Linked DNA regions of Homo sapiens: region 2 is linked to region 1. Evidence: fine-mapped expression QTL. A gene starts in region 1. The other region holds a variant in brackets. All regions are shown on one strand. Distances are between the middles of the regions.

Evidence for each region. PIP is the estimated chance that this variant, and not a neighbour inherited with it, causes the effect.
Region 2: its variant is the best candidate, but not a certain one, in a credible set for the expression of ATG2B in whole blood (INTERVAL, PIP 0.69).

What each region holds. Positions count from the first base shown.
Region 1 is chr14:96,359,163-96,368,465 of GRCh38, reverse strand. ATG2B (autophagy related 2B) reads left to right here and starts at 5,125. Exons shown (of 42, transcript NM_018036.7): 1 at 5,125-5,651. The coding sequence starts at 5,490. It overlaps GSKIP (GSK3B interacting protein), which reads right to left and starts at 4,940. Exons shown (of 4, transcript NM_016472.5): 1 at 4,898-4,940. RefSeq lists a silencer at 4,668-5,017 and enhancers at 4,219-5,039, 4,960-5,254, 6,496-6,565.
Region 2 is chr14:96,299,860-96,309,162 of GRCh38, reverse strand. ATG2B (autophagy related 2B) reads left to right here. Exons shown (of 42, transcript NM_018036.7): 30 at 2,247-2,449; 31 at 3,348-3,574; 32 at 4,560-4,668; 33 at 5,908-6,102; 34 at 7,055-7,156. Among named protein-coding and RNA genes, the nearest start is that of BDKRB1-AS1, 36 kb to the right of the region's middle. The variant T/C (reference allele first, on the strand shown) is at 5,321.

The sequences.
Region 1 (9,303 bases):
GGGTGCTGTGGCTCATGCCTGTAATCCCAGCACTTTGGGAGGCCAAGGTGGGTGGATTGCTTGAGTCCAGGAGTTCGAGACCAGCATGGGCAACATGGTGAAACCCTGTCTCTACAAAAAAATACAAAAATTAGTGGCACAAGCCTGTAGTCCCAGCTACTTAGGGGCTGAGGTAGGAGGATCGGTTGAACCTGGGAGGTTGAGGCTACAATGAGCTATCGTGCCACTGCACTCCAGTCTGAGTGACAAAGTGAGACTCTGTCTCAAAAAAAAAAAAAAAAGAGTAGCAATACAACCTTGTAAACCTTTCCTTCGAAACCAGAAACTGTAAATGAGACTCTAGGAAAAGACACTCAAAAATGGAATGTAAAAAAAAAAAAAAATTCCAGTTATTACAGTTTCTTATTTCTATATAATCCTCTAGGAAATAAGTATTACTTGGCACTATATTTAAAGTACATTCTAACAAACATAAATCAATATCTACAGAGACATAAAATAGAAAACCTCACTGCTTTCCATTTAAACTCCAAATTGGTTCTCTACCAGATCCTGAGCAATATTCTGTTTCTAGCAAAGAGACAAAAATTGGAATACTTGACAATTGCTATTATTTATTCTGGTAGGTTGTATCACCTGATGTAAAGTTTCCATAAATGATTCCTTAAAACATCATACATAAATTATTTAGGAACCAGCTCTTTCTCCATAATTTTTGGGCGGTGTTCGGGTGTTTGTGTTTTTGGAGGATTCATCCAACTGGTTATTATGACATTGATTACTAAATCGTTTATTCTTTACTTCCTAATTTATTAGACTATTTTGTTTCATTACGAGTTCAGAGCATCAAAGAGCTTTATCCTTGATGACAAAAAAATGGGCAAAGACAGTCATATATACTTAGTCTGACAAAAGAACAGCCCCAGAAAGATTTCAAGAACATATGGAGTGCAAATTTTCACTTTGAAAGTCTGACCTTTCAGTTGACATTGTTAACAGTCAGCTGAGGGCAGGATACGATATCTTAATCATGATTACCTTTATTTGTATCACACACTACAACCTGGTAAATCCTCTCAATATGAACAAGGGGCCAGGAAGATGTGATGGTTAACAGGCTCTCAAGCAGACTGACTGGGGCTAGAATTTTAGCTTGGCCACTTAATTTACTCTGGGACTTGGAAAAAGATGTTTTAATCTTTCTCAGTCACACATTCCTCCTCTTTAAAATGATGTTAAAATAGCATCTACCTTTAAGTGATATTGAGAGAACTAAATGAATGAATACATGGAAAGTGCTTAGAACTGTGCTGGGCAAACAGCTGAAAAAATATAATCTATTATATTAAAAGTATTTAACACTATCTTTCAAGAAGAAAGCCTGACCCTGAAGCTCAAGCCATGTGGCTCCAAGTTAGGTGCTCTTTACATTATGTGGGGGATTGGCTGCTGCTGTGTTGTACAATTCCTCCAAGAGCCGTGAGGTGTGGAGCCCTGACAGCGTCGTCCTGTTACCTCAGGTGCAAGTCATTAAAAAAGGTCAAATACATCTCCTTGGCTTTTCTTTCATTTCCCATGTTAACAGATTTCTCTGAAGGAGGATTATTTTGACATGACCCATTTAGCCTCTGGCATACAGCCTCTCACCTGTCACTTCAAACTTTTACATAATTCTTAATAAGCTGACAATATTCGGTTGGGTAATTATTTTCTTTTTTAAAATTTATTATTATTTTTTGAAATAGGGTCTTGCTCTGGCACCAAGGCTGGTTTCAAACTCCTGGTCTCAGGTGATCCTTCCGGCCTTGGCCTTCCAAAGTGCTGGGATTACAGGGGCACGTCACCACACCTGGCCAGGGTAATTATTTTCATCTTCCTTAATTAATGCAAGGTGTTAACATTTTGTGACAGGTACTTTGTCTTTGACAAAACACAAAAATGGCACTGTGATTTGAGATGAGTTTGTACCCTACTGTAGCCAAAGATATCATAATGACAGGTCCTAAACCTTAACATTTATACTGAATTTCTCCTAGAAAGCATAAAGTTTACAAGGCAACACACAATACTCTGAATAGAGCATATTTGTTATTGCAAAACCGTCGTTTTAATTTTCCTTTCTGATATTTGAAATTGCAGGCACTCTATGGATAGCCCGAATGCAATTCTATATTGAAAAAGGAAACCACTTATTTAATAACTGCTGAAAGAAGTCCAAATTGTATCTATTTGTCAGAAGTCTATTTCAAACCTTCCAAAGCCTATTCTAATTTCTTGCAAGATCCCACCTTTGCCTTTTCATACCACCTTGTTTGTATTCCTTTTATGGCAAATATTAGAATTATTATTTACAAACATGTCTTATCTTCAAAATATATCCAGAATCCAACTGCTTCTAACTAATCATTTTCACCGCTACCGCTTTGGTCCAAACCACTGTCATCTTTTCCTTGCATTACGGTGATATCCTTCTAACTGGTTCTGCTGTTTTCACTCTGGCCCTCCCACTTCCACACCAGACTATTCTTAACAGCAGTTAGCATGATCCCATAGAAACTTAGGCCATACTGTGTCACTCCTCTCCTAAATCCACCTCACCCAGAGTAAAGGCCAAAGTTCTTTTTATTTTTTTAAGATAGAGTCTCACTCTGTTGCCCAGGCTGGAGTGCAGTGGCACAATCTCGGCTCACTGCAACCTCCGCCTCTCGGGTTCAAGCAATTCTCCTGCCTCAGCCTCCCAAGTAGCTGGGATTACAGGTGCACGCCATCACACCTGACTGATTTTTTATATATTTTTGGTAAAGACAGGGTTTCACCATGTTGGCCATGCTAGTCTTGAACTCCTGACCTCAAGTGATCCGCCCACCTCGGCCTCCCAAAAGTTCTGGGATTACAGGAGTGAGCCACTGTGCCCGGCTCCAAAGTTCTTATCAATGGCCTACGAGGCCCTACATGATGTGCTTCCTCTGCGCCCCGCCCGCCCCACCCCCCACCCCCAAACTGCCCAGCTTCTACTTTTTCCTTCACTCACTCTTGATGTTCCCTAAATTCATCAAGCATTCTCCCGTGACAGGGCGTTGCACTTGCTGTTCCCCTTGCATGGAAAACAACTCTTCCAGGTATACATGTGCCTCACTTCCCAGCTTTCTCCAAGTTTCTGCTAAAATGTAATCTTATTAAACAAGAGAATTTCTCTTACCATCTCATATAAAAATGGCAAGTCCCTTCTCTCTTCCCCATCTCCACTCCCTTTACATTGCTTTCGTTTTTCCAACAGCCCTTATCACCACAAAGCATATTATTCACTCATTTATTGTATGTCTCCTCCCTTCAATAAAATGTAAGTTCCAGGAAGGAAGAGATTTATCTGTTCACTGCTGTAATCCCAGTACCTAGAACAGTGCTTGGCACACAGAAGGCAATCAATAAATATTTACTGAATAAATGAACAAACTTCCACTTTATTGAGAGAAAGGGTCTTGCTCTGTGGTTCAGGCTGGAGTGCAGTGGCATGATCATAGCTCGTACGATCCTTTCTGATATTTGAAATTGCAGGCACTCTATGGATAGCGTCAATGCAATTATGCAGCCTCAAAGTCCTGGGCTCAAGCGATCCTTCCGCCTCAGCCTCCACAAGCAGGTACCACCATGCTTCCGTTTTAGAACATAAACTCCTTGAAGGTTCGGCCTGATTCTTGACACTGTTCACATGATCAACTGTGGTGACTTTCATTTAATGGACCTTAACAAATATTTCTGAATGAAGAGCAAGGGAATCTAAGTTACTGAGAATACTTGAGATGAGTCTACAAAGAATGAGGGAAATCAACAATCCAAGCAACTGCATACAAAGTACCCTGGTTCTAAAACGAAAAGGTGGTTGTGGAAAGGGGAACCAGATGTTTCTCCATCTACCAATATTTTGGGCTGTATTTCCAAGGCATTCATGAAAGTTGCCGAGACAGTAAACATTTCACTCCTTAAACTGGTCGTCTTAATTCACTGTGATTAAACAGCTGTATGTTTCAGGACTCTGTTCAGGTTCGTGCCCTACTCATATCATTTAATCTTCCCAACAAATCCATGCACATAAGATTTTAATCCGCTCACACTCGGCAAAGGAGGCAACGTGGGCTCGGGGAGGGCAGTGGCCGCTCAAAGTGGCTGGGCGGCTAATAGGTGTCAGTGCCGGGATTCTAACGAAGGACATCTGGCTTCTGGGCCATAGAACACCCGCACCCAGGCCTTTCGAGGTTGACTTAACTTAACAGCCGGCTCCGCCTCTGCAGGAGTTACCTCCCAAAAGGCAGAAATACGATTGCGCAGACTGCCAGAACAGCCCAAGTTCTTCACCCAGGTTCCGGCGGGGTCAGGAGCCTTTAGCATTTCTCAAGGAATGCAGTTTTGCCCACAGATGCTTCGAAAACCCAAGTTTCCTGATCGTTGCTATGACACACCCAGGATTAAGCGAGCGTATGCGAGAAGCGCTCTGCAAACCGCCAGGCAAACGGCAACGAAGAAGCTGCCTCAGAAACAATACCTGAATGAGGCGGGGGCCGAAGAACTTGCTGACAATGGGCACCGGTCAATGCTCGGGTGCGGGCGGGGATGCTCGAGAAGGGCTCCAGTCCTCCCAGCGGAGACGGCGGAGCCCCAAGTGTGCGTTTCCGGGGCGCCGAGGTCTGAGGGGAGCCGGGAGAGCCAGGCCGGCCAGACCGGCCCCCAGACCCCTCTTAACACGGGCGCGGGGCCCCTGCAGCCTGCCGCCCCTCTCGGCCCAGCCAGCTGCATGGCGTCGCGTCCCCATCCGGAAGGCCTGACGGCCCGCCGGCGCCCCGAGCCCCTAGCCCTTCTCGGGGGCCGCCCCTCGCCCGCAGCCACCCCGGCTGCCGCTCACCTGCGCGCCCGGCGTCCTCTTCTTCCTTCCTCCGGAGGCGACTGGAGCCGACCGGCGGTGCCGCCCCCTCCCTCCCCGCCTTCTTCCGCCCCGCCCCCTCGGAGCCGGAACTGCTCCAGCCCCCGCCCTTCTGCCCGCCTTCCGCGGCCCCAGTGTGGCGTCACTTCCGCCAGCGCCCGGCGGCGCGCCGGGAGTCTGGGTCTCGTGAACGCGCCAGGAGCGTCCCTACAGCCGGGAACGCGCCTCGCGGATGACAACAAATTCGTCGCGCGGCGGCAGTGGCGGTGGCTGCCTCAGCCCCTGCCGCCTCCTCTCGCGCTCTCTTGCACTCTCTCCGAGCCGGTTGGGACCCTCCTCGGAAGTCCCCTGGCCTGGGGCCAGGAGGACCCCTCTGCGTCTTGCCTCCGCCAGGCCCAGCGCGAGCGGTGCGGCGCCGGCGATGGGGTCTCCCTGAGGGACTCCCGGCACCAAATAGGGATGGAGGGGCCGCCCCAGGCTTAGGCCCCGCCGCGGCCTGGAGCCGGAGTCGCTACCCCGAGGCCGGAGCCGTCGCAACCCGCAGCCGCAGTCAGCCCAGCTGCCAGCAGTCACTATGCCTTGGCCGTTTTCGGAGTCCATCAAGAAGAGGGCCTGCCGGTACCTCCTGCAGAGGTACCTGGGCCACTTTCTGCAGGAGAAGCTGAGCCTGGAGCAGCTCAGCCTGGACCTGTACCAAGGCACCGGGTCCCTCGCCCAGGTCCCCTTGGACAAATGGGTAAGAGCTGCCGGCGGCGAGCCGGGCGGGGCTCGCTCCCCTCTTTAGGGCGCTTTGAACCAGTGCCATCCAAGATTGGTGACAGTCAGTCCCTCCTTGGGAATTGTTTGGACCCGAGTGTGACACGGCTCAGAGAAATGTGTTAGAGTGTTGTTTAATCTGTTTCTAACAAGTTTGCTCTCCTAAATCACGTGTTCCGGAAACTTTAACAGATGTAATGGAATCTACACTGTGGGAATAATTGAGTCAGTGCTTCGGGGGTCTGTGAAGCAGGCTCAATAGGTCCGTGGGAGGAGGTGACCAGAACTGTCCCTCGGGATGTGAGGGGCCGCAGGGTTTTGTGGCAAACAAACCCTGCCTTGTGGGATGACATTCTGGAAGGATTAAGGATGAAGAGGACCTTTGGATGTCAGAATCCCTAGTTATTTGTTTTGGGTTGGCTGCTTGCGCACCATGTTTGCCTTGTTTGTCATCGTGCAGCGTTTGCCATCTGGAAGAAAGTTAGGTGAAGGCCTCTTGTGCCGGTTTGCCTGCTTTTGCTTGATTATATGTTTACAAGATAGGTTTGTGTATCCAGCCTGTGAATGGTCGTCTGGCCCTAGTAGTGCTGTTGAGTTATGCCTCTTTGCTCCACGTGACAGATCGTAAAAGCAGGTGTTGCAAAAGCGCTGAAGTTGCAATTTTCAGACATTTTAAAACCTGCCTTCTACTTGTCATCTAGAGGCTGTGAATTCACTCATTGCTATACAGGTGCTTCATCTGAATTTCGACTCACCACATGCAGTCGTACCTGCATTTGTGTGTTCAATGCATAGCATTTTACTTAAAGTATATTCACTTTTGGGTTTGACAGGAATAGAGTGACTTCTACCCTTTGCCCAACCCTTACTTCCTTAGCCACAGAAAATCTTAAATTATGGAAATACCTTATTATGACCCTTAAGCGAATTTGTGCTAGAGACTATAAATCAGTATATAATTTTATCAGTATGTACCTGACATAAACTAGGGAGAGGACACAAGATAGTGGAAAGAGCCCTGGTTTGAGAGCAGTAAGACCCAGTCGCTCACCAGGAGGTGAGAGTCCTACCCCTGGAGAGACTCTCCAGACCGCCACAATTAGCCGAGTGATAATGGACTTAGCAATTCACCTGAGTTCAGTAAACACTAATGGAGCACACACTTCATCTCTGTGTCGTCCGTCTTATGGTATTGTATTCCTGTAATTCTTCCAAAAGATAGGGATTCTGAAGGATATTTTTGAATTCAACAACCCATGATTCTATACTTTTGATACAGTTATGAATAGGTTATCTTGAAAAAAGAGGGTTCAGGATTTATTAATGCCTTTTGTGGGTGGAAGGGCTTTGTATGCATTATCCTTTAATGACTTTAACCCTATAAGGTGGGCATTAATATTTCCATTTTACAGATGGAGTTAAGCAGTTTGCCCCATCACACATCTAGCAAGTATTACATCACATGGCCTAAGATCAAAAGAAAGGCAGTTAATGTTTATTGAGTATGTATTTATGTCAGGCATTGTACTAGGCACTTTCATTTGTGAGGTTTTATTTAGTCCTTATGGGAAATCAGAGGTAGTGATATTTGAATTTTATAGTTTGAGTTCAGAATCATTGGCAAAATGATTTATTACTAAACTTAATCTGAGGATGATGTTTTGTTCTTGATGGGCGGGTTTTGTAAACTAAAATGATAATGTCAAAGCATCCAGTAAACATTTGCTGTTGCTGATTTATTTTCATGTGCTGTGTTGATGGTTAGGATAAATCTTAGTGTGACCCTTAGATACAGCTGTTCAGAGTTCTGATTCCAAATTCAGTTTATTTTCACACTTGATTTTTTTTTTTTTTTTTTTTTGGTAGAGGATTCATTCTCTTGCTTTGTTGCCAAAGCTGGTCTTGAACTCCTGGTTTCAAGTGGTCCTCCCACTTCTGCCTCCCAAGTGCTCAGATTACAGGCATGAGCCATAGGACCCAGCCAGATACTTGATTTTAATGACTTACATGACTGAAAAAAAGGTACCTTCGGAGATTCACAGATCCTAATGGAAAAACTGATGCTAATTGAAGAATTGCTGTACTCCTACTGTTTCAATTCTAAATGATCAATTATGCAAAGAATTTTGTTGAACTCAGCAATGACATTCCTTTCATTCCTGATCTCAATTAGTTTTTCTATTATGGCTAATTGACATTGCATATATACACACAATTAGGTTTAAAATTCAGTTTTTCAAGCTCTTTGTTCAGAAGACTTAGATTGGTTGGAATAGTCTTTTCATGTTTTTAAACATTTTGTAAACTATATAGATAATGACTTAAAAAATAAGCAATGTTTTTAATAGACATTGTTTTCAGCAACAAAATCATGGAACAATGGAAACATTTCCAAATACAGTTTTTCAAATGTTCTCCTCATAGTACAAGTAGTCTTTGAAAAGTGGTTGCTTTCTTACTCATTATTAAAGTGCTATCTTTATTTTGAAAAGACAGATTAAGTATGTTTTGTTTTTTGGAAAATATCTGCTAGGTAGCATGTACTACTGATAGTCATTGTCATAAATACATAAATAGTCAGTGGAGAATTCTTCTCTGTGTAAAAGGAAAATGCTTATCTTTAAATCCAACCCTTAAACACTTGGCCATAGGAGAAACCAGGAAACCAGAAGGTAATTGCCATTCACTTTCTCTTTACAAAGATTCTACTGTTTAAAGGTCTGGTTTTATTCTATAGAATGTATGTGGAAATGTTTCAGTGTGCAGAAGTGGAAGGAACATCCAACTGAGGGCACCACTCTTAATCCTTCTCTGTTGTGGAACTACTAGTTTTCTCTTTGTACCAGTTTGATATGTGGCTTGAAGGAAGGTGCCAGTGCCCATTTGTATATTAAATATAAGTACAACTTTTCAATCTAAATTTGGAAAATTTAATATAGAATGTCTCATTTTCCTCTCACATCCTTATGAATCATCTGATAATACTTTAGGATATATGCATCCAGTTTTGGAGATTACTACCTTAAACGTGGCATGAAGTGGAGGGAGAAATAGAGGCAAGGGGTTTGGGATTGTTCCATCATTGGAATAGACTGTCTAAAAATTTCATAAACTCCTTGTCCCTAGAAGTGGTTGAAATGGCAAAATGTTGAAAGGAGGAAATTCTATTTGGGGTGGGAAGTTGGATTTAATGACTCATTCCTTTTTAACTCTATGACTGTGCCTTTATTTTTGATTTTTAAATGGAATTTCTTTCATTAATCGATTCAGTACATTTATTGAGCTCTTAGCATGTGCCACTGTGAGGGGCTGGGGGATATAGCAGTGAACTAAACAAAGACCCTTTTCTTACAGGAGCTCAAGAAGATACACATTAACAATTTATTACACTGAGGCCTTTTATTTTATTTTTTTTTTGAGACAGGGTCTCACTCTGTCACCCAGACTGGAGTGCAGTGGCGTGATCTAGGCTTACTGCAGCCTCAACCTGCTAGGCTCAAGCGATCCTCCTACCTCTCCTCCCCTCCCTGCAGTAGCTGGGACTACAGGTGCATGCCACCACACCTGGCTACTTTTTGTATTTTTTGTAGAGACGGGATTTCGCCATGTTGCCCAGGCTGGTCTTGAACTCC
Region 2 (9,303 bases), 59 kb after region 1:
ATGATGTAAGAAAATACTTCAACTGTGGTATATCCTCTACTGTTTGGAAAGGATTGGGATAATTTTATTAGACTTTAGTAAAGTAAGATGGCTTGGCTTTTTAAAAGTGGTTGGGATTTAGGTATGTAAAGAGGGAGGAGAAGGTAATCTTGGCAAGGTCATTAACATCAACAGAGCACAGACAAAGGCATGCATGAGCCTCAGTTATTTAGCCATGACATTCGGGTTCTTACTGAAACAAAAGTTCTCTTATTGAAAAGAATTAGATAATAAAGTTGGGTAAGCAAAGAGGGACCCAGGTGATTCAAGATCCTTGAAAGCCAAAGGGAAGCAGGTAAACATTTTAAAGCCTCTATTTCAACAGTATTTTCTTCTAATTGAATGGTCATAGCTATATCTATATATTGGGAAATCTTAATTAAAAATTATTTCATGGAGTTGTAAAAGTCTAGTGTTAACTGTTGCTGTCTTGCTAATTTAGGATAAATTAGAACTAAGGAAGCAAACTGGGGCTTTTAGTGTTCTATGTACTACATTATTTGTAATAAATGTTAGCAGCTAGGCTGGGCACAGTGGCTCATGCCTGTAATCTAGCACTTTGGGAAGCTGAGGCAGGTGGATCACTTGAACTCAGGAGTTTGAGACCAGCCTCGGCAACATGGTGAAACCCCATCTCTCCAATTAAAAAAAAAAAAAAAAAAAGCTAGATGTGGGATGTGTTGGCAGGCGCCTATAGTCCCAGATACTTGGGAGGCTTAGGTGGGGTGGGAGGATCACCTGAGCCCAGGAGACGGAGGTTGCAGTGAGCCAAGATTGTGCCACTGCACTCCAGCCCGGGTAATAGAGCGAGATTCTGTCTCAAAAAAAAAAAAAAAAAAAATATATATATATATATATATATATATGTGTGTATATATATATATATATATATGTATATATATATTTATGTATTTATATATATATGTATATATATATTTATGTATTTATATATATTTATATATGTGTGTGTGTGTATATGTATATATGCAGCTACCTTAATTACATGGGAAAGAATATTTAGTGATTATTTACTGGGTGGCTTCAATATACAAGATTCTGTACTAGGCCCTGGGTACCTGTAAGGATGAGTAATTCTGAGGTACTGCTGTAGAAGAATCTAAAATCTAATCTGTGAGTCTCTTAAAGCCAGTATGTCTCTTGATTCAGCTTAGTGTTCTCAGCCTCATCACAGTGTTTGGTTTTAATGAATGAATGGGAAAAGAATGAGTGACTCTTAATATGTAATGTAAACATATTAAAATATATGTTGACATGCAGATTTTGGTGCACATGTAATCTTTTGCGATAGCTACCTAAGATTAGGTATCCAGTTTGGGTATCCCAGGCCCCAGGAAGAGGTCTTCTTTTCATACTTGAATCACTGCCTCCTCTGCCACCTAATGCTTGCTCAACAGCTATTCTTCCCTCCCCTTCCCCTTCCCTCCCCCTACATTTAGGCTCTGCTAAATGTAACCAGTTTCCCCTCACATTGTAATATTGTCCAAGAAGTTTCTTCCAGAGCTCCGCCTATAGGACAGAATTGTCAAAGGTGAAATTCTGGGTAAAGCAAAACTCCACTCAACACTAACCAGCAACTGCTGAGCTTCCCCAACGCCAACTAACTGGGAGGAAACTGTCTTTGTGACATTGCCATTTCGAATTTATCATTTGTCTTTTTATTAGTTGTTGTTTTTTGTTTGTTTGTTTGTTTTTTTGACAGGTTCTTGGTCTGTCACGCAGGCTGGAGTGCAGTGGTGTGATGTCAGCTCACTGCAACCTCCACCTCCCGGCTTCAAACAATTCTCCTACCTCGGCCTCCCAGGTAGCTGGGACTCAGGTGTGTGCCACCATGCCCAGCTGATTTTTGTATTTTTAGTAGAGACAGGGTTTCATCATGTTGGCCAGGCTGGTCTGTAACTCCTGACCTCAGGTGATCCACCCATCTCGGCCTTCTAAAGTGCTGGGATTACAGGCATGAGCCACCATGCCTGGCCTATTAGTGGTTTTTGATGTATTTCTGACTCTTGCTGAGGTGTTTTGGTGCATGTTACTTAGCTCTCTTTAAGCCTCAGATTCATAGACTTATTTTAGGAAATAAATGAGATATTGCAGGTAAAAGCACACAACATATATCTGACACATGGTTAAAATGCTTGTTGTTGTTGATATTTCAAAGTGTGCCAAAATGTTGTAATCTTTTTATCTAGGTGTTTTGGATGAAAAATCTCAAATTCAGGAGCCATGTTGTTCAGACCTCTTCCTGTTTCCTGACGAGAGTGGGAATGTATCCCAGGAGTCCGGCCCCACCTATGCCTCATTCTCTCACCATTTCATCAGTGATGCAATGACAGGTGTGCCCACTGAGAATGATGACTTTTGCATTCTTTTTGCACCAAAAGCAGCCATGCAGGTAATAAATTAATAACATTATTGAAGCCTTGAATGGTGTTACAAATGAATTGACCAAAGGGTACCTGGAGAAAATTCTGTTGATTTTGTAAATTCTTTATAGTTCAGAGTTACTTTTTTTTTTTTAATATACTATTGACAGTTGGTGAATGGTTACTGTACTATTTCTGTGACACATCTAAAGACTCAGAGAAGAATGCTATTTGCAAAATTTCCAACATAGATTATTGAACTCCAGATTTTTTATATAGTAAGATGACTATTCAAGGATCGTGAAATTAAATGGCAGAAGGATCTGCTGGACAGAATTGCTAGTCCAAGAATCGGGAAAGATAAGATGTGGTTTGTGTGAAGGCTGATGGTTGGGGTGTGTTTGTGTGTATGTATAGATATAAGTGTGTGTGTGTATGTGTATTTGGAAACTTTCCAGGAATTGTCCAGTAGGTGACCGTATTTGTTTACAAAGTTCTGAGAACCTTCTGGTTAAATTTTTAAAAATCCAAACAATCAAACTCAGGATAAACCTATTATTAAAAACATGGTAATATCATCCATATGTTGAAATTTGTTAACTTTTGGTTTGCAGTATTGACTTTAAACAAAAAAAAATACCCACACACTAAATTTGTGCTTTTTTATTATCAAACAAGTAGTGAAAGCCGAATTGTAAACCATAAAAAATCCTTATGGAGTGGTTTACGTAGAACAAAGAGAGTTTATTTTATGGTTAATAAAGCAGAATATCTTTGTGGTGACTAATGTCGGTAACCATCACCTTATTTTATATACTGGAATTATTAAAAAGAATGTAGAAGCAAGAATGCCCCTTGAGATGTGCAGCATAATCAGTTGTTTCTAATTAGAAAAGAGAGTATGTGTTACCTGTTTGTTTATTTTAGGAGAAGGAAGAAGAACCAGTTATAAAAATCATGGTTGATGATGCAATTGTGATAAGAGACAATTATTTCAGTCTGCCCGTTAATAAGACCGATACGAGCAAAGCCCCCTTACACTTTCCCATTCCTGTGATTCGCTATGTGGTGAAGGAGGTCTCTCTTGTCTGGCATCTTTATGGAGGAAAGGATTTTGGAATAGTCCCTCCCACTTCTCCGGCTAAAAGTTATATGTAAGTTAATTTCTATATAAGTTTATTTGGGAGGCCAATATATTCTTTTCTTAGAAAAATAGAATTTTCCATTTCCCCTTTAGAGAGAAAAAAGAAAAATAGGATTTATCATTTTAAGAATTATTAATAAAGTAGTATTAAAAACTGTAATTTAAATGTTACTCTCACAGTTTTCCAATTGTGAACTTATTTGTATTATTTGTATTTTTACTAAAATGTTGACTCTCATCATTTTCATTCAGCAGAAATTTTCAGGTATCTACCATGTACCTATTTCACAAAAATGAGTAGGTCCTGTGAGTCATGTGAGTGACAGAGGGCAGTGAAACGCAGGAAGTGTGTCAGGAGGTGGGGTCGGGCATGCCCTGTCCCCAGCATTCAGCAGGGCACTGAGCAGAGAGCCTGTGGTCATTGAGCGCCTGTGAGACGAGTGCAGTGTGCCGGTCGCTGGGAGAATCAGGTGGACAGAATCCCTGTAGGGGGCAGACTTCCTTATTGAGGTGGGGCATGGCATGGAGGCTGCGTGGAGCAGTAACATTTGACACTATAGTTCAGCAGCTTTTTCTACTTAAAAGCGACTTTAAAACACGTCCAACTTTACTATAATTATTTTGTGTATTAGTTGGGATTCCTAGGACTTGTGTTCTGACTATAAAGGGTTTCCAAAGTAACAAGAAGCTTATAAGGAGGTCTCATTTCTAAGTGTATCCTGTGATACGGATCCCAGCATCATAATTAGCTTTTCCTGTAGTTTTGAGTATTTAGCAAGCAGGTGATTACTCTAATGGCAATAATGAAACGCGTGTTTCAGTGTCTACAGAGTAAAGAAGATACGGTTTTGGTTTCTAGTAATTTGTGGCAGCGTTCTGATAGCTCTGTACTCTTACTTTGTCTTTCATCTTATCATTTTCCTTAATGTCATTCATTGACTTTCTTTGAATATTCCTTTAACAAAAGGGTTTTTTTTTTTTTTGCTCATTTTTAGTAGTCCCCACAGTTCGCCTTCTCACACACCCACGAGACATGGACGTAATACAGTATGTGGGGGAAAAGGAAGGAACCATGACTTTTTAATGGAAATACAGCTAAGCAAGGTAAGATGGCATTTGAAGGAAAAATCCACTTAAGTAGGATATTGGCGGGGGGTTCTTTTGTTATCCCCCACCACGTAGTCTTGAGCCTTAAGTCCCAACCCTTTGGATTGGAAAAGTGCAAGGATCTTGTATAAAACTCTTACCTCTTTTTCATTCTCAAATGTTCTAAGAAGACTGAGGTGTTTTTCTTTTATTTTTGTTTGTCTGGGCTACCGCTAGAGCGGTGGTTCTCACAGTTGAGCAAGCCCAGAATCCCCTGGAGGGCTTATTAAAACACAGGTTTCTGGGCTCCACCCCAGAGTTTCTGATTCAGGAAGTCTGAGGTAGGGTCAGACTGAGGAGATGCTGCCCTAGAGCATCTGTCTGGGAAAGCCTGTGTTTGGACAGTGCATCTGGCAGGTCCTTTGTGAGACTAGAGACCAGTAGGGCCAGACTACTGATGGCATCACACGCATTTAATTCTACCAGCTTGTCTGAGATTGTACCAAGTGTCATATTTTAGGATAGTTAGCATGGCAATATTGTAGTGATGACAATTCCCTGTATTTAATCATATCTGTGCCTCCTTTTGGAACTTGAACCCTGCCTCTGCTGATTCATTTTAAAGCAATTTCATAGGTATGCAAGATAATAATTTTATGTCTTATTCCTA[T/C]TGAGAATTTTCCTTGGAAATAAGGGATTTTACCAAGGTCAAATAGAAATATTAGTCAAGCTTCTCTGTGTATGGTAGGGTCCACATAGTCCCCCTTATCCACAGACATACATGGTAATAGCCTCAGTGGATGCCTGAAACTGCAAATAGTACTGAACTTTATGTATACTGTGTTTTTCCTATACATACATACCTATGATAAAGTTTAATTTCTAAGTTAGGCATAGTAAGAGATTAACAATAATGAATAATAAAATAGAATAATTATAACACTATACTAAAATAAAAGTTATATGGAAGGTATTTCTCTTGGTTTCAAAATACTGAAATATTTTTGGACCTCAGTTGACCATGGGTAACTGAAACTGTGGAAAGCAAAACCTTGGACAAGCAGGGAGCACTGTAGATTAATAAATGAGTGAACAAGTGAAGGAATGTCATGTTGTTGAGTTTTTTGAAGGTGGAATTGTAAGCTGAGGTAGAATTCAGAGGAAAAATGAGTGATATTTTGCATTTTAAAGAGAAAATACAATTTAATAAAAGGAATGTAAAGAACTGTTCCGCGTTCTTCCTCCTTACCCGTTAAGGTGAAGTTTCAGCATGAAGTCTACCCGCCATGCAAACCTGATTGTGATTCCAGCCTCTCAGAACACCCAGTCTCCCGGCAGGTGTTCATTGTTCAGGATCTTGAGATTCGAGATCGTTTGGCAACATCACAAATGAATAAATTTTTATACCTGTATTGCAGTAAAGAAATGCCTCGAAAAGCTCACTCCAACATGGTAAGAGTTAACCTCATCGTTGTGTTATGTTAGTTTTGGAAACGTGTTTTTATTATATCTAACTTCAGGAGAGTTAAAGTAGGGAAAATTACTAGATATCTTTTCTCATTTTAATGTGAAAAGTCCCTTTTGAATGTATTGCTTAAAGTTTTATGTTTAAAAAATTATTTTGCATGTCACTTCTAGGGTCCATTAACTCTAATTGCTAATAAATTGATATCTGAGGAAAAGTAGAAGTCCCTAGTGATCAGTACAAAATAGGTAGTATTGCTGAAGGTGTTCCAGATTTCTAACACTCTTTACATTTTAGTAAGGTAGAAATGATTCTTTCAGGACTTTGGAGGTCCCTCACAGAATTTGATTTTGGCATATGGACCTATGGTTAGCTTCAGGGTTTCAGTAAACTGTTACTAAGTACAACATTATCCATTTGCAATTTTTCCTCTAAAGAGAGTCTACATCTTTAAGCAGTTTTTTTTTTCCCCCCAACAGTGTCTCACTCTGTGACCCAGGCTGGAGTGCAGATTGTAGTTCACTGCAGCCGTGACCTCCTGCGCTCAAACTAGCCTCCCATTCAACCTCCTGAGTAGCTGGGACTACTGGCAGTGCACCACCGTGCCTGGCTAATTTTTTGTTTTTTGTGGAGTTGGGGTTTTCCTATATTGCACAGGCTGGTCTGGAACTCCTGAACTCAAGTAATCCTCCCACCTTAGCCTCCCAAAGTGTTGAGATTACTGGCATGAGCCACCGTGCCCAGCCTTTAATCAGATTATTGATGGGGGCATGTGACCCAAAAATGTTTGATTCAGACTTTTAAGGAAAGAGGGTAAACAATTCCTCTTTTTCTCATATGGTATAGGAATAGGAATTTTTCTTTTTTTTTCTTATTTTTAAAGAGAAGAAGGTCATCATATTATTGGGGAAAAATGTTATTCTCTTTCTTGCCTTGTAGTTGACAGTGAAAGCCTTACACGTGTGTCCAGAATCTGGCAGGTCCCCACAGGAGTGCTGCTTGAGAGTGTCGCTGATGCCGCTCCGCCTCAATATTGACCAGGTTTGTAGCATGAGCGTGATTCCTGCCGTTACAGTTAGATTAGACTGCATGTTCAGAATAAAGAAATTGTAATGTTTATCATTATTGAACTTTTATGGCGGTTACATATATAAAGCAAACTTCTGATAAAGAATAGGGCAAATTCATTAGATGTTTGGAATCTGAACTATGGCTGAGTCAACATCATTAGATGTTATTCCCCAGTCTCCTACTCATGGTGTGATGTAGACCTTAATACCTGCTTCTTGTTCTCTAATCCTCAAGTACTCTACTCCCAGTTCAGATATGCATACATTTTCAGAGAGTATTAGAGGATTCCCTGATGAATTGAATGCTGCTCTGTCTTCATTGCAGCATCTGGAAGAGAATTCTTTCTGTGCTGGGCAAAATGACAAATGAGTAAATTGGTATACATAAAGAGGTCAGAAACAACAGAGATTTAGACTTTCCCTAAAAAAAACTGGAGTTGGGCACAGTGAAATCCACTTTCCCGTATTCTAGCAGGCATCCCATCAAATTCTTCTGGGCTTTGCTTTGACCCAGCGATCTGTTTAAAACATAGCTGGTGCCTCTTCCAGAAACTTTTTACCAAGATGTATGAAAATAGGATGCGCAGCCAAGGTATAGTAATAGAATGGCGAGAAGCATGGGTTTGGAGTCAGACCTGGGTTCCAGTCTTAGTTCTGTAGCTTTTACTAGTTGTATGGCTTCGGGTAAGTTACTGAACATCTCCAAGCCTTAGTTCCTTCACTGATAAAATGGGAGAAATAGTAATATGTGTATCATAATGCTTTTTAAAATGAAGATTAAATAAATCAGTGTGTGAAAAACATTAACTGGGTGCCTGACACACTAGGTTAGGGATCAGTAATGTTAACTGTTGTTATTTAATAATAACATAACATATGATAATTGCAGAACATAAATGGAGTTTTTAACTAATCTGCTGTGAAATAACAAAACCTTCTTGACAGAAATTGTGTTGATATGAGCTCAGGTTTGGAAGTAGAGTATTTATTTGTGGGGTGGACGTTATTAATTTGCTTAAATAGTACTGGTTGAATAATGTTCATTAGTTGTTTAAATAAAACTTGAATAACTAAAAGCTGGTAACAAATATTTCAAGACTGAGCTTAAATAATATTTATAAACAAAAAATAGGCGCTGTCTTAGAGAAAATGTACTGTGAAGTACAGAAGCTTAGCATAGCTCTACATTAATGCTTATAGCCTCTGACCTAGGTTAGACTTGCCAATCAGTACTTTAAGTTTATGTTTTATCATTATGAAAAGAAGATATTTTGATATCCATACTTTAACTAAATTTATCCATATATTGATTGGCCTAGTGGAAATACAATGAAATATTTGTGGGAAAATTGATCTGTGGCGATCACCAGTGTGAACAAGACTTTGAGTAAGATACATCTTTCTGGCATGACTTTACGAAACTTAGCAAGCCCAATTTTCTTTCTTTTTTTCTTCCCCCGCCACAGTGTCTCACTCTGTCACCCAGGCTGGAGTGTAGATCATGGCTCACTGCAGCCTTGACCTCCTGGGCTCAAACTATCCTCCCGCCTCAGACTCCTGAACAGCTGGGATTATAGGCGCATACCACCATGTCCAGCTAATTTTCTATTTTTATTTTTTTGTAGAGACGTGGTCCCATTATGTTGCCCAGACTGGTCTTGAACTCCTGGGCTCAAGTAATCCTCCCACCTTGGCCTCCCAAAGTGCTGGGATGATAGGCATAAGCCACTGTGCCCACCCTAATTTTCTTTAATAGACTTTTAAATTTAATATTGAACACAATTTCTTATTTAGAACTATAAAGCATTATGATTTTAAAGTGGAGAGTTATTAATCTTAGAACCATCAGGGAAATAAATTTTATGACTACCTTGAGGAAGAATGAGAAATAATTCATTAAGACATAAAAGCTAGGAAAACAAAGCCACACCACAAATATGTAAGCGTTAATGAGGTATATCACCTGACACAAAAATTCTTTTCAGTTCGCCTCTTTTAAGATTGCTATACCATATTTTGGGATAGTAAATGGTCGTCTGAGTAGAAAATCAAATATTTTTGTTTATTTTTTCTTGTGAAAACAAATCAGTTGGTGAATGATAATGCTTTGAGTATTAT